2 linked regions of the Homo sapiens genome follow. The protein of the gene in region 2 purifies or fractionates together with the protein of the main gene of each other region. This does not show direct contact. Each region holds a gene or a part of one and is shown on either strand. Other genes may lie near its edges.

Evidence for each region. The genes of interacting proteins can lie anywhere in the genome.
Region 1: the proteins of ITIH2 (region 2) and TMEM184B fractionate together in Homo sapiens (co-fractionation; one large-scale study listed by BioGRID). This does not show direct contact.

Annotation. Positions count from the first base shown.
Region 1 is NC_000022.11:38,242,011-38,245,510, forward strand, and holds part of TMEM184B (transmembrane protein 184B), read right to left. Parts: intron 1-3,500. UniProt on the Homo sapiens protein: May activate the MAP kinase signaling pathway.
Region 2 is NC_000010.11:7,741,316-7,744,815, reverse strand, and holds part of ITIH2 (inter-alpha-trypsin inhibitor heavy chain H2 precursor), read right to left. Parts: intron 1,671-3,500; coding exon 1,557-1,670; intron 735-1,556; coding exon 536-734; intron 26-535; coding exon 1-25. UniProt on the Homo sapiens protein: May act as a carrier of hyaluronan in serum or as a binding protein between hyaluronan and other matrix protein, including those on cell surfaces in tissues to regulate the localization, synthesis and degradation of hyaluronan which are essential to cells undergoing biological processes.

The DNA of each region.
Region 1 (3,500 bases), on a different chromosome or scaffold from region 2:
TATTTTAGGTCATTCTAGGAAGAAAACAGCTGAAAGAGTTGAAAGTACAGTGAACTTCAGAGTGAGGAGTTAGGGGAGTTTCGTGTTTCAACCATATGCCTATATTACTTTAATAAATGTAATTTTTTTTAGTGTTTTTTAAAAGCAGAATTTTGTTAACAAAGAAAAAAAGCAGGGCCAGGCTTGGTGGCTCACGCCTGTAATCCCAGCACTTTGGGAGGCCAAGGCGGGCGGATTGCCTGAGCTCAGGAGTTCAAGACCAGCCTAGGCAACACGGTGAAACCCCGTCTCTACTAAAATACAAAAAAAAAAAAAAAATTAGCCGGGCGTGAAGGCGTGTGCCTGTAGTCCCAGCTACTCGAGAGGCTGAGGCAGGAGAATTGCTTGAACCCAGGAGGAGGAGGTTGCAGTGAGCCAAGATTGCACCATTGCACTCCAGCCTGGGCGACAGAGCGAGACTCCGTCTCTAAAAAAAAAAGAAAAAAAGCAAATGACCGTAGTGCTCAGCTCTGAGCAGGTCCTCAGGAAGGGCTGGCTGGATCTGCAGAGTTCTCCAGCCCAGGTGAATCCCACTCCCTCCTGGGCCCTCCTGGCCCCTCTTGGGCACTGAGAAGGAAGGGTGAGAGGGGAAATACAAGGATCGGGGGGGACTGCCCCATCACTGACTCTGCAGAGGCAGCTGCAAGAGAGGGGCTAGGACCCAGAGCAGTGGTGCAGGGACAAGGCAAGGAGCAGGCCCCGCTGCCTCTGATGCTAAAAGCTGGTGAACTTGGCCAGGCACGGTGGCTCACATCTGTAATCCCACCACTTTGGGAGGCCAAGGCGGGCAGATCACAAGGTCAAGAGATCAAGACCATCCTGGCCAACATGGTGAAACCCCGTCTCTACTAAAAATACAAAAATTAGCTGGGCGTGGTAGCACACGCCTGTAGTCCCAGCTACTCGGGAGGCTGAGGCAGGGGAATCACTTGAACCTAGGAGGTGGAGAATGCAGTGAGCTGAGATTGCCCCACTGCACTCCAGCCTGGCAACGGTCTCAAAAAAAAAAAAAAAAAAAAGCTGGTGAACTCGGGGGCAGCCTGAACTTCACTGCAGCTGCTGTACTGTTTGTAAACTCCCTGGGAGAGGCCAGGCCAAAGGGATAATCGCGTTGCTAGGAGATGTGCTTCACAGGGTGGCCGACTTCCTGGAGGACCTCTCCCCGGGCAGGGAGGCAGGTCAGGGCAGGCGGGGCCTGAACAAAGAGGCTTCTGGAGTGAGGGGTGCCCGCCAGCCATCTGCTGCCGCCTCTGGGGCACGGAGTGAGAGTGAAGCGGAGGCTCCCCTGGCTGTGTGCCCCGCCTTCTGCCATGCGCCTGTCTTTGGGGTCCCGCCGAGAAGAGAGCCCACACTTGTCCCCCGACCACACAGGAGAGGCCACCTTGGCAGGGAACAGCTTTGTGCTTCTGAAGGAACAGGTGGGCAGAGGCTGCCCCTGGGTACCCATGCGAGGCTGGCAGCTGAATGGAAGTGGATTCTCAGCCCCACACTTCGCCAATTCCAGCCTTTATGGTGCCCCAGGGACCCAGAGGTTTCCCTGGAGACTTGGCTGCTTCCAGAAATATCAGACACCAGAGCCCCAGTTAAGCCCTGAGCAGGTCCCCATCTGGCCTCAGTATTCTCATCTGGAAGGACAGGATGGAACGCCAGCCTGCGAGGAGGGAGCATGGGATGTTACTGAGGCCCCACATGGAGGAATGCAAGGCACAGGGCAGGGGTTTGATTAAGTCCCTTATTCATCCAAAAGGGAGGAAGTAGGCATCTCCCATGGGCCCGGCTCTGTCTGGGCATGGCTGCACCCCATCCTGCTCTGGCAGGGCTAATCATGCTCAGGAAGATGGAACACGAAGCAAGGGAGCTGCAGACTGTGGTGGGGCCGAGGACCTGGATGGGTGCTGGGAGTGAGAGTGGCGGGGAACAGACGGATGGAAAGGAGGGACCCCACGCAGAGCAGAAGAGCTTCCCAGGCCGGGGACACAGCACGTATCAAGCCCTTGAGGCTGGGAAGCACCTGCCTGATGTGGCCGCAGTTGGGGGTGGGAAGGCAGAAATATGAAAGGCTGGGGTGCAATGGGCTCCTGTTGGGCGCCTCCATTTTCTTGCCAAACCTAAAGGCATTTCCTGTGCCCTATGAGTTCTCAGGGATACACAAGTTTCAACGTGGAGAGGAAGAGAGACTCCAGCTGCTTGGGGGATGAGCATGCTTCACTCCAATATCCACAGAGTGCAGGCCTGGGGCAGCACCCTCCCAGGTCAAGGAAACAGACAACTTCTGGGCATGGCCAGAGCTGCTCTGCCTGAGATTAGGAAAACCACATCCGGTCACTTTACCTAAAACCAGCAGCACAGGTGTGGGTAGGAGACAGGAAACCTCACACTCTGAGAATAGCATGGGTATCAATGTAGGGGTCTTTTTTTTTTTTTGAGACAGAGTTTCGCTCTTGTTGCCCAGGCTGGAGTGCAATGGCACGACCTCAGCTCACCACAACCTCTGCCTCCCAGGTTCAAGTGATTCTCCTGCCTCAGCCTCCTGAGTAGCTGGAATTACAGGCATGCACCATTATGCCCGGATAATTTTGTATTTTTAGTAGAGACGGGGTTTCTCCATGTTGGTCAGGCTGGTCTCGAACTCCCGACTTCAGGTGATCTGCCCGCCTCGGCCTCCCAAAGTAATGGGATTTCAGGCGTGAGCCACTGCACCCAGCCCAATGCAGGGGTCTTGAGGAACCCCTCCTCTCCATTCCTGCTGGCCTGTCTAGGGCAGACCTGGGCATTGCTGGCCTCTAACAGATGAGGAATGCCTGGGACCTGCCCAAGACAGGTCAGAGGCCAGCTCCCATGAGAGCAGCATCCTGGTCTCCTTGTGGTGACTGTTTAGGGGCCACAGCCTCCCGCAGGGCAGCAGGGGTGAGGCTGGCTTCTCCTCTTGGCAACCCAGCTCCTGGCCTGTGGTCGGAGCTCAGGATGGGAGCAGGTGATGTCTCCACTCCACATCCAGAACCAAGTCCCCGGAAGGAATCGAGTCTTCTTCCTGGGTGGCACAGTAGGGCACCCACTCGTGGGACAAAGCCCTCAGAATTAAGACCCATGGGGACAGAGCCCCAGCCCTGCCACTGACTTGCCAGGGATCCCTGGAAGGGTCCCTACCCAACTGCACCTGGGGCCACCTGGGGTCTCTACAAACAGACCACTTGCTTGCTGCCCCCACCCTGCCTGAGACGCCAGCATTGAGAAGCGAGACCCAGGGGGAGGGCCCTTGCTTCCAGGTACCTGCCTGAGACGCCAGCATTGAGAAGCGAGACCCAGGTGGAGGGCCCTTGCTTCCAGGTACCTGCCTGAGACGCCAGCATTGAGAAGCGAGACCCAGGGGGAGGGCCCTTGCTTCCAGGTACCTGCCTGAGACGCCAGCACTAAGAAGCGAGACCCAGGGGGAGGGCCCTTGCTTCCAGGTACCTGTCTGA
Region 2 (3,500 bases):
TTCTTTCTTCACTGAGATCTGCACCCTGGTGTGAAAGTCCAAGAGGAATTAAACCATTCCAGAACAGACCTTTTGAGAAAGTCATTCTTCTCACCCCTAATATGAACTCTTCACTCCTCCCAGACAATTCCGCTAGTTATCTAAGCGCTTGCAACAGTTTATAGATAAATGATGGATTAACAGAAACTCATTGGGAAGCTTCTACGCAGAGGACACAATCATGGCGTTTGGAGCTCACTCTGCGATAGAGTCAGTATGGATTTCAGCTGGTGGATTTGTTCACTGATTAGCACATACACAGTGAGTGTTTACTGATGCCAGGCACTGGACTAGGTCCTGGGACCCAACGGTGACCAAAAACACACAGTGCCCACTGCCAGGAACAGAGTAGGGAGTGAGAACAATTTTTCTGAACCTCAACTTCCTTATATTTAAAATGATGATTTTTTTTCAATGTTGATGTCACTGATGCCTGGATTTATTTATGCAGTCGTGTGTCACGGACAGGCCCAAGTTCAGATGGAATCATACTTGCCTCTGATTCGTGACTTGAGCCGTGTCGGACCAGGACAAGGAGAATGTGCTAGAACCATGGCTCAGGGTGATGGTCTCAGTGCTGATTTCTATTTTTATGTCTTCACTTTGGAAATAAAATCCCAGTTTTCCAAAATAGGTGCTTAGTTTTCCATTGTTGGGCTTCTTGGCACCAACAAGCTGACCGTTGACTACAATTCCTACAGGAAAGAAAAAAATGATGTTTTCTCTTCTGTGCCATTTATTTTGCATGTGTGGGTACTATAATTCAAATTTATAAAAACTTGGCAATATTGGAAAATTATTATAATTTTGCTTCAAGATTTACATTAACATTTTCTTCTTTGTGATTCTCATTTTATAACATGTTAATATAACATTTATAAATTTTAATAAAATTTAATTTAATAATTTTATATCAGTTATAAAATTTAATTGTCAGTTTATAAAATTTAAATAATTGACTATCATATAGTATTTAAATTTTTTGTTGTTGTTTTTGAGACGGAGTCTTACTCTGTCACTCAGGCTGGAGCGCAATGGTGTGATCTTGGCTCACTGCAACCTCCACCTCCCGGGTTCAAGCAATTCTCCTGCCTCAGCCTCCTGAGTAGCTGGGATTACAGGTGTGTACCACCACGCCTGGGTAATTGTTTTTGTATTTTTAGTAGTGGGGGGTGGGGTTTCATCATTTTGACCAGGCTGGTCTCGAACTCTTGACCTCAGATGATCCGCCCACCTCGGCCTCCCAAAGTGCTGGGATTGCATGTGTAAGCCACCGTTCCTGGCTCATATTTAAATTAATTATATCACAACAAGATCTGCAAGTTCATACTCAGAGTATATATTTTGAACTATAATGGTTCAAAATAGTTAAGAATATATTTATAATTTAATTTCTCACTAATATCACTGAAATATATAGAACTTCTATTAAGCTGAGAAAGAAAGAAATCCCAGGCAGTGACAGGAAAGCATGACAATGACCTAATTGGTGCAAATATAATTTATTTTTATTTTACCTGATTCTGGGTCAGAAACCAGGTTGAGGATTTTTCCAGGTTCTGAGTCAATATTGAAACAAATGTTCTTTTGGCTTTTTGGTAGATAAATGATGAAATGTGGGTCATTTTCAACTGGAAAATATACAAAGAAAACGTAAACAAAATCATTAAAAGGAAGATGATTTTGAGCACTATGTCATTCCTGAACATCTTTAATTTAATCAGAACAAATATTTATTGTGCTTCTCCTACATGCTCGGTACTCCTCCAGGTCTTGGGGACCCAGTGGTTCATACTCCATTGTCCCTTTGTCACGGAGCCTTCTTCAGAACCCTATGTTATTTTACAAATATAGTGGATATTTATTTTGTAGCTAAAAATGTATGCACTAGACTAGATACTAGAGATAAAAAATGAATAAGAAAGACTTAAGGAATAAGAAATACACACAAATATGCACCCACAAATATAAGAAACATACATACACGTGTGTGAATATGTGTGTAGACAGAAAAATAGAGTTGGGTGTTTTTTGAGACAGGATCTCCCTCTGTCACCCAGGCTGGAGTGCAATGTTGCAATCATGGCTCACTGCAGCCTTGACCTCCAAGGCTCAAGTCATCCTCCCAGCTCAGCCTCCTGAGTAGCTGGGGCAACATCCATGTGCCACCATGTCTAGCTAATGTTTTGTATTTTTTGTAGAGATGGGGGGTCTCACTTTGTTTCCCAGGCTAGTGTCAAACTCCTGAACTCAAGTGATCCACCCATCTCAGCCTCTCAAAGTCCTGGGATTAAAGGTGTGAGCCGCCTCACCCAGCCTGGAGATATATTTTTTAAGGAGCCATATACAATGCAGGAAAACAAAGGAGACACACTATTATTGTTGACATACAGATTAATATGATTCAATTCCAAAAGCAATGAAGAATCAAGCTACTCCCAAGAAAGTACTCCTTTGTTATTGAACCTAATTATTTTAGATAATCCTTCCTTGCTTCCCCTCCCCTCCCGCTCCCCCATCCCCACTCTCCCTCTCCCGCTCTTTCCCATTTAACCATTCAACAAATACTTGGTGAAGGAAAAAAAAAATCTATGTGCAATCACTAAATTTGGCAATGTTTGGTGTTAACTATAAACATAAGTCATGGTCAGTAACTTCAAGAAAGTAATACTTTAGTGCAAGGGGCAGACATAATCACGAATGTAAGATAGAATGAAGTACATGGTGCAATAGTGGCTCAAGTAAAATGCTGTGAGAATGAAGATGAAAATGATTAGTGCCCCCCAGGCAAACAGCAAGGCTGAATGGAGGAGGTGGCTTCTGAACTGTCTTTAAGGTCAGAGGACAGCGGGGAAAGACAAAAGGCTAAGGAGGAAGAGATTTTATTCTGAGTGTACAGAATGAGGAAGGAGTGGAGGTAGAAGAGTTTATGATTTCTTTAGAAAATAACTCAATGCGACCAGAGGACAGGTTCTTGAAGAATGCAGAGAAAAAGAGCTAAAAGTAGAGATCACAGAGACCCTGAAACACCAAGAATGGGCCTTTATTCTGTTGAGCAGCTATTAAAGGTTTCTGAGAATAAATGTGACTTGACCCTCATTTTAGGAAAGTTGTTGGTGGCAGTGTTACTAAAAGTTTGCAGAGGAGTTACAGGAAGCTTGTGCAGTGGCTAAAGCAGTCACTCAGGCCAGAAATGTTCAGTTCACACCTCCAGGTTCATGCTCTGCAGTCCACAAATACATGGTTAGTTGATTGTTCTTGGAGCCAGACACTACAGGGCATTGTAAAAACACAGAACAGGCCAGGTGCGGTGGCTCACGCCTGTAATCCCAGCACTTTGGGAGGCTGAGGCGGGTGGATCACGAGGTCAGGCATTCGAGACCAGCCTGGCCAGCATAGTGAAACCCCGCCTCTACTAAAAATACAAAAAATTAGCCGGGTGTGGTGGCGGGCACCAGTAA